Homo sapiens: one gene and its partner. The protein of the gene in region 2 interacts with the protein of the main gene of each other region in a biochemical or structural test. Each region holds a gene or a part of one and is shown on either strand. Other genes may lie near its edges.

What was found.
Region 1: the proteins of TUT1 (region 2) and PIP5K1A form a complex in vitro, tested with the Homo sapiens proteins (one study listed by IntAct).

What each region holds. Positions count from the first base shown.
Region 1 is NC_000001.11:151,236,258-151,240,068, reverse strand, and holds part of PIP5K1A (phosphatidylinositol 4-phosphate 5-kinase type-1 alpha), read right to left. Parts: intron 3,512-3,811; coding exon 3,306-3,511; intron 1,888-3,305; coding exon 1,804-1,887; intron 940-1,803; coding exon 891-939; intron 115-890; coding exon 30-114; intron 1-29. UniProt on the Homo sapiens protein: Catalyzes the phosphorylation of phosphatidylinositol 4-phosphate (PtdIns(4)P/PI4P) to form phosphatidylinositol 4,5-bisphosphate (PtdIns(4,5)P2/PIP2), a lipid second messenger that regulates several cellular processes such as signal transduction, vesicle trafficking, actin cytoskeleton dynamics, cell adhesion, and cell motility.
Region 2 is NC_000011.10:62,588,487-62,592,849, forward strand, and holds the start of TUT1 (speckle targeted PIP5K1A-regulated poly(A) polymerase), read right to left. Parts: upstream 3,038-4,363; 5' UTR 3,000-3,037; coding exon 2,918-2,999; intron 736-2,917; coding exon 545-735; intron 1-544. UniProt on the Homo sapiens protein: Poly(A) polymerase that creates the 3'-poly(A) tail of specific pre-mRNAs. Localizes to nuclear speckles together with PIP5K1A and mediates polyadenylation of a select set of mRNAs, such as HMOX1.

The DNA of each region.
Region 1 (3,811 bases), on a different chromosome or scaffold from region 2:
TAGGCAGTCAATTGGTAGAAACCACTTACAGGGAATCTTCTTAAATACTGTGTTGCACATGAAGCGCTGGAACCGTTCAGCGTAGAAGCCTGGGCGATGCACTGAGACAGTGTCCTGCAGAGCAGAAGAAATGCTATAGAGTTAGGAGGCCCGGCAAGAGGAACTCTAGTCCAAGGGCCATCTTCCCCCAGACTGAGCCCCTAGCAGAAGGGTAAAACCTACAGATGAAATAAACGGAAGGGGCCAGACGTAGTGGCTCACACCTGTAATCCTAGCATTTTGGGAAGCTGAGGTGGGCGGATCACCTGAGGTCAGGAGTTCGACACCAGCCTGTTCAACATGGCAAAACCTCATCTCTACTAAAAATACAAAACTTAGCCATGCATGGTGGTGGGCACCTGTAATCCCAGCTACATGGGAGGCTGAGGCATGAGAATTGCTTGAACCTGGGAGATGGAGGTTGAAGTGAGCTGAGATTGTGCCACTGTACTCCAGCCTGAGTGACAGAGCGAGACTCCATCTCAACTCAGCACTTTGGGAGGCCAAGGTAGGCGGATCACTTTGAGGTCAGGAGTTTGAGACCAGCCTGGCCAACATGGTGAAACCCATCTCTACTAAAAATACAAAAATTAGCTGGGCGTGGTGGCACGCGCCTGTGGTCCCACCTACTCGGGAAGCTGAGGCAGGAGAATCACTTGAAACTGCGAGACGGAGGTTGCAGCGAGCCGAGATCACGCCACTGCACTCCAGCCTGGGTGACAGAGTGAGACCCTGTCTCAAAAAAAAAAAAAAGAAAAAAGAAAAAAGAAAAAATTGCAAGAAACTGAGGCCAATCAGAAGTGATGGAGGCAGAAGTGTACGGTAAGAGAGCCTCTAGTATTACTACTTACTCCGTCATGTACCAGGGCTTTCCAAGAGTGCTCCAACTTCTTAACAAACCTGCAAGAAAAATGTACATCACCTACTCACGTCATTTTTAAATAAATGACCTTAATAACTTTATATTTTAGGGGGTTAAAGGGGTAATAGAAAATCTTGAAAAGACAGAAGCTGAGAAAGCACATCTACTGGTACACTGGTTTTCCCAAGAACAGGCATGGCAGTGCTGGTTCATCACAGAGACCAATGTTGTTTCTAGGTAAGTCAATTATTCCCCCCATGGGAAAAGGGCAATTTATGTCCCTGACAAATCAGGAACATGAATATTTATTATAAAAGGAGAGCTGAAGGAACAGATGGGCAAGACTGGAAAGGGTAGTTAAAACTGGATGATAATACTGAACCAACAAATCAAGTACCGTCCAGTCCTCATTAGTATTTAAAACCTTACAGGAACAAAACTGGGGTCTAACAATTCCAGCTCCTCCCTGATGATCACTCCATTGCCTCTTAGTTCCACAGTCTAATACATTTTACAGAACACAGTGACCCTCCTGTTTTTCCTCCTTGGAAAAGGGTAACGTTTCCAGTTGTATCCCCATGTGGAACATGACTCATCTCATAGGTTTTTGCAAAGAGCCAGACAGATGGCATATTCTACCCTGGTGCTTCCAAGGACTGACTCAGCTTTCCACAGAAGGTATACATTATGTCTGGGGAGATGGGGGAGGAAGGGTTATAAAGGCCGGGGAAAGAGGCAAAATCAAGGAAATAAACCATCTGAAAACTAATGAAGTAAGTAGCCAGACTGCAACTCACTGTTCTTGCTTCCGGAAGAACTTGGTAACAAACCTATCTAAAAGAGAAACGTGACTGGTTATCTGTATCCACCCTCTCTTAATTTGGGATCCATATGCTCCTCACCTGTAAGACTGTAGAATGTCAATGATGCCAATATAAAGCAGAAGCCTTTCCCCTTTACTATTCCGGGCAGGGATGCCACCCATACTGGAAAAGGCAAAAAGGAAAGGGTGAGAAAATCTGTTGGCTAGTTTAGTCAGATCAGGATGGGGAAGTGAAACCTACACATAACTGCCTCATCCTCCATAAACCAGAAGGTCAGATAATAAGTGATCAAGAAAACAAAAAGAGAAAAAAATACATTAAAAAAACAGGAGAAAATGAGATCCTTCCTCTAACCCCAGGAACTCTCTACAGTATGTATTATAATCTAGTTTTCTCCAAATCTTCTTGCCTACCTCTTCCACTCTGATTCCACCAAAGAGAATCTAAAATTGCCACTACTCAGCAATTTTGGGAATGCTCTCCTAATTAACTCAACTTCTTCAGTACTTTTGCTATCTTAATTTATGCCCACTAAGACACTCTTCTTGAGAGTCATATTACAGGATACCTTAAAAAAATGAAACAATCTAAGATATTTGTGACACTTCAGTAATTACACTTACTAGGCATGATGAAGAAGGATGCCTTCCACAAAGAAGTCTATAACAATTTTTTTTTTTTTGACACAGGGTCCCATTCTTTTTGCCCAAGCTGGAGTGCAGTGGCATGTACAGTGGCTCACTGCAGCCTTGACCTCCTGGGCTCAAGCAATTCTGCCTCATCAGCCTCCTGAGTAGCTGGGACCACAGGTGCTCACCATCACACTCAGGTAATTTTTGAGTTTTTGTAGTGATGAGGTCTCATCATGATGCTCAGGCTGATCTCAAACTCCTGGACTCAAGTGATCCGCCTGCCTCAGCCTTCCAAAGTGTTGGGATTACTGGCATGAGCCACTGTGCCCAGCCCTAATAAAGTTCTAATATAATTTGCAGACATGCATTTAAGACTATAATTTTTTAAGTCTTTAACTCTTGAACAGCTCTCCTTCCCACATATACTATAAACCCGAAATTAATCTTCTTTTCATTTTGTATTAAGAAAGCTCGTTCAAGCTCATTCTATACTTCTGTCAACAATAATGTTACTGATCCAACTGCTGAGTCAAGGCTACTCCTTTCCAGAAGCTGGGTCCCTTCCTAAAGAAAAAGTGCTGTGGCCGGGCACGGTGGCTCACGCCTGTAATCCCTGCACTACGGGAGGCCAAGGCGGGTGGATCACCTGAGGTCAGGAGTTCGTAGACTAGTTTGCCCAACATGATGAAACCCCTTCTCTACTAAAAATACAAAAAATTAGCTGGGTGTGGTGGCAGGTGCCTGTAGTCACAGCTACTCAGGAGGCTGAAGCAGGAGAATCGCTTGAACCCAGGAGGTGGAGGTAGTAGTAGGCTGAGATCGTGCCATTGCACATCAGCACATCAGCCTGGGCAACAAGAGTGAAACTAAAAAAAAAAAAAAAAAAAAAAGAAAAGAAAAGTGCTGTGGGCCTATGTTCTCCCCCCTAGTGGCCCTGAGCCCACTTACTGGTCATCAGTCTCCATGGTACCACCCCGTCGAGCCTCTCCCTGGATGGATTCCATGGCTGTGGAATACAGAGCCTTTTGGGGGGCCGGTCTTCGAGTATCAACTGAGTACTGTGTTTCACTGCTTAAGGGCTCTCGTTGTGCATGATCTATATTATGGATTGACATCAAGAGGCTGTAATCCATTATCTTGAAGCTCTGCAGCACCTAATGGAAGGAAAAAAACATGATCTGAGCCTTGGAAGAAATAAAAATATTTTTCAGGATCTCACAATTTTTTTGTTTTTTTGAGAAAGGGTATCAATCTGTAACCCAGGCTAGAGTGCAGTGGTGTGATCTCGGCTCACTGTAGCTGCAACCTCCCAGGCTCAAAATATCCACCTACTTCAGCCTCCCAAGTAGCTGGGACTACAGGCACACACCACTACACCTGCCTAATTTTTTATTTTTCATAGAGACGGTTTCACCATGCTGCCCAGCTGGTCTCTAATTTCTGGGCTCAAGGGA
Region 2 (4,363 bases):
GACGTCACAGTGAGCTGAGATTGTGCCACTGCACTCAAAAATATAATAATAAAAATAAAAATTCAAGGGGTGGGGGAGGTGTGAGAAGCTCCCAAAGCTGGTCTAGCCCAAGTACTGTGATGTCCATCAAGAATAAGCCACATTAGGAACCAGCTCAAAGAGGCTGTTGGTTTCTCTCTCTTGTCTCTTTGGTACACAGCACATCTGATTCATTCTTTTTTTTCTTAAGACGGAGTCTTGCTCTGTAATCCAGGCTGGAGCACAGTGGCACGATCTCAGCTTGCTGCAACCTCCACCTCCCGGGTTCAAGCGATTCTCCTGCCTCAGCATCCCAAGTAGCTGGGACTACAGGCATGCGCCATCACACCCAGCTAATTTTTTATTTTTAGTAGAGATGGGGTTTCACCATGTTGGCCAGGCTGGTCTCAAACTCCTAACCTCAGGTAATCCGCCTGCCTCAGCCTCCCAAAGTGATGGGATTACAGGCGTGAGCCATCGCGCCCAGCACTGATTCATTCTTTAACCCGAGAGCCATTCACTTTACCTTGTCCTTGTCCATGACAACACTGGCCACAGGTCCAAATGCTAGGAAGTACTCAGAGAGCTGAGCAGAATCCACATCCCTGGGAAAGCCACTGACAAACACACTTCGAAGTCCCTGGGCCTTTCTCGCAGCTCGTAGTTCTACCAGGTGCCGGTGCTTTCTGCCTCCCAAGTGGGCATCAAGGCTGGGTCCTGCAAAGACAAGTGTGAGACAAAAACATGCAAAGCACTCTTCGACGTGTCTGCCTTTGCTCTCTGCATACCTAAATCTTACTGATCCTTCCAAGCCACAGAAACTGTGACCTTTGAATAAACAAAGTCCTGGCTCCTTTCACCTTCCTCTCTTATACATTTGTCTAAATAGTACATTCTTTTTTTTTTAATTTATTTTTTTTAAACAGAGTCTCACTGTCGCCCCCGCTGGAGTTCAGTGGCGCAGTCTCCACTCACTGCAACGTCTGCCTCCCAGGTTCAAGAAATTCTCCTGCCTCAGCCTCGTGAGTAGGTGGGACTACAGGCGTGTGTCACCACACCCGGCTAATTTTTGTATTTTTAGTAGAGACGAGGGTTCCCAGGAGAACTGGCTACACTACAAGTATTTTGTTTATTTTTACTTAAAGAACAGTGTGATAGTAAAGTATTTCTTAAACCACCTATTTGTGCTAGGTAGAGTTGGAAACAAATTAACAGGTAACTTATCCAGGTCATCTACACAAGAACTAAAAAAATTTGGATCATGGAATACTTTGTGGATCATCTTTGGACATGGTATAATATAGTGATGTCAAAGGCAGGATCTGAAATTACATTGCCCAAGTTCAAATCCCAGCTCTGTCAACCTGTGTGAGACCTTGGTCAAGTTATGAAGCCTCACTGTGCATCAACTTCCTCAGATATAAAATGGAAATATCAGTATCTAGCACCTCACACACAGGTATTATTCAGATATATCACTTGGCAGAGAGAGTCTGGTACACGGTAAATGTTGAAAAACTAACCGTTGCTATTATTTTATTGAGTTAGCTGCTTGATGTCACCAAAGTAAATGTGGGGCCAAAGAAGACTCCTAGGTTTCTGGCTTGGCTTACTGGATGAACAGTGATAGTGCCATTCACAGTGAAAAGGAAGAATGGAAGTAAACCCTGTTTAGGGAACACTGTGATTCCAGACTTCAAAAGTAGGGCTGGGCACATTGGCTCACGCCTGTAATCCCAGCACTTTGGGAGGCCAAGATGGGAAGATCGCTTGAGGCCAGGAATTGGAGACCAGCCTAGGCAACATGGTGAAAACCCATCTCTACAAAAAACTAAAAAATTTGCCAAGTAGGCCGGGCGCGGTGGCTCAGGCCTGTAATCCCGGCACTTTGGGAGGCCGAGGCGGGCGGGTCACGAGGTCAGGAGATCGAGACCATCCTGACTAACATGGTGAAACCTCGTCTCTACTAAAAAATACAAAAAATTAGCCGGGCGTGGTGGCGGGTGCCTGTAGTCCCGGCTACACGGGAGGCTGAGGCAGGAGAATGGGGTGAACCCAGGAGGTGGAGCTTGCAGTGAGCCAAGATCGTGCCACTGCACTCCAGCCTGGGTGACAGAGTGAGACTCTGTCTCAAAAAAAAAAAAAAAAGAAAAAAGAAATTAGCCAAGTATGGTGGTGCACACCTGTAGACTCAACTACTTGGGAGGCTAGCCAGGGGTATGGTTTGAGCCCGGGAGGTTGAGGCTGCAGTGAGCCAAGATCACACCACCGCACTGCAGCCTGGGTGACAGAGCAAGACCTTGTCTCAAAAAAAAAAAAAAAGTGGAATTTGAAGTTACAGTGAACCCCTTGTGTGTCATACAAGAACCTTGTCTATTTTTCCAAACCCATCTTCTGTCTCTTCCTCACTGGTACCTTATGGTCTAGTCATTCATGCCACACCTATTTCATCCATCCCCTCCTTTGAGTAGGTCCTCTGTAGGGCTTCTCTGATTTAGTTACTAATTCTCTGTGGTCCCACAGTTCTCCGAACATATCTATAAAGCATTGAAACTTTCTCATTCTCTAGACGGTGAGCTCCTTCATCTCTGAACCCCCCTCCCCCACCCTAAAGATCAGCAGAATACCAGGCACAGAGCATATGTCCAATAGATGATGGTTAAAGAAGTAATAAAACAATTAAACTTGCGTTGTGGAGATTTCATATACTGAGGAGTGTAATGTGGTGGAACTTTCCCGACTCTCCAAATCCCCTCGGACTTGCAGAGAAAAACGGAGGTGAGAGACCCTACCAATCAACTTGACAAGAACGACTGACTACCTATAACCCTAACTTTCGCCAGGATCAAAAGACGAAAGCCCGCAACCACCCCCGGGTCCCTCACTAGCCACCGCTTACGGTTGGCTGTAGTAACGTGGCAGAGGCAGCAGCGGAACCCCCCACGCGGCAGCGATTCGACATCCGAATCCACCGCCGCCATAGCGACTCTCCTGTACCGACAAAAACACAAGCACCTCTGCCACCACCGGAACCCACTTCGCCAAAGCTCAACGCGCTCGGAAGCAACTTCCGCCGATCCGATAGGAAGTGACATAAAGTCGTTCAATTGCGCGGACACACTCCTCCGGAAACCAAGCTCCTTCGACTCTGGGTTCCGTTTCTAGCCGCTGTCCAGTCCCCGCCCGTTTCAGGAAAAGCGGCGCGTTACGATGCTTATCTGCATGCGGTAAGCCGATTGGTGTGCTTTAAGCTGTTCAGACGTTGATTGGCCCAAAGCATCGTGAATATTCATGACAGCAGCCACAAAGGCCGGCGCCGGGTGGCATCTTGCGGCAGCTCCTTCACCCCGCAGTAGACACCCGTGCGTCTGTACCCTCGACCCTTATTTACCCGACGAATAAAGGCGGAGGATCGGCGGCTTCCAATTCTTTGCCCCACGGAGCCCAGGGCTGTCCCTGGACTTCCAACCTTTTCAGGGCTGTTACTCCCTCCCTCCGCCCCCTGTCCTCCCGCAAAACGGGTGTTCTGCGACGGCTTCTAGCCCTGGTTGGGGAGCTCTGCCACCACCGGGCACCTTCCGGACTCCACGAGGTCCTGGAGCCAGGCCCATTCCTTCCGCAGTAGTGGGCTGCGTGGTGTACGCCGGAGGCGCCAGAGCTACTGGCGCACCTCAGAGCAGTGCGACAAGACAAAACCGAGTGCCAGTAACTGAGTTTAGACACTGGAGGGGGCGAATGCTGTCAACCCCCTCCTGGTATAATTGTCAGTTCATCCCAACGCCGCCGAGGTGTAGGCTCAGGACAGGGAGGGACTACGGGGAGCTGGGGATGCCCTAGGGACAGGGACCATAACGAGGTGGAGAGAACTATCAGATGGGCTCAGCAGCTTGTGCTGTGGTTATCAGCCCACAGCTTTGAATGGCGCAAAGAGCAGTGGACCTAAGGCAGACACCAAGGTCTTTGACCTTGAACAAGTCACAACTGTTGAGGCCGTTTCCCATCTCTAAAGGAAGTGCCCAAGGAGCACACAGCAGGCTGAACTTCTTGTTCTCTATCCTAAGGTGTTCCTTCTAATGGGCCCAGCTCAGGCATCTAATCTCAGTGTCCCAAACCTTTAAGGCAGGAAACAGTGCTACAGTGGATCGGGATATCATCGAGACTGGCCTTGAGGATCCTGAAGCAGCAGGCTGTACACATACACCCAGAGGTGCTAGGGTGGTTCAGTGGTAGAATTCTCGTCTGCCAAATACACCACACAGCTAGGTGAGGGGATCCTCCTATAACCCCACCACCACCCCCAAGGGGGTATACATGTTACCCTGGCTGCTAGCAACTTCCAGAATTC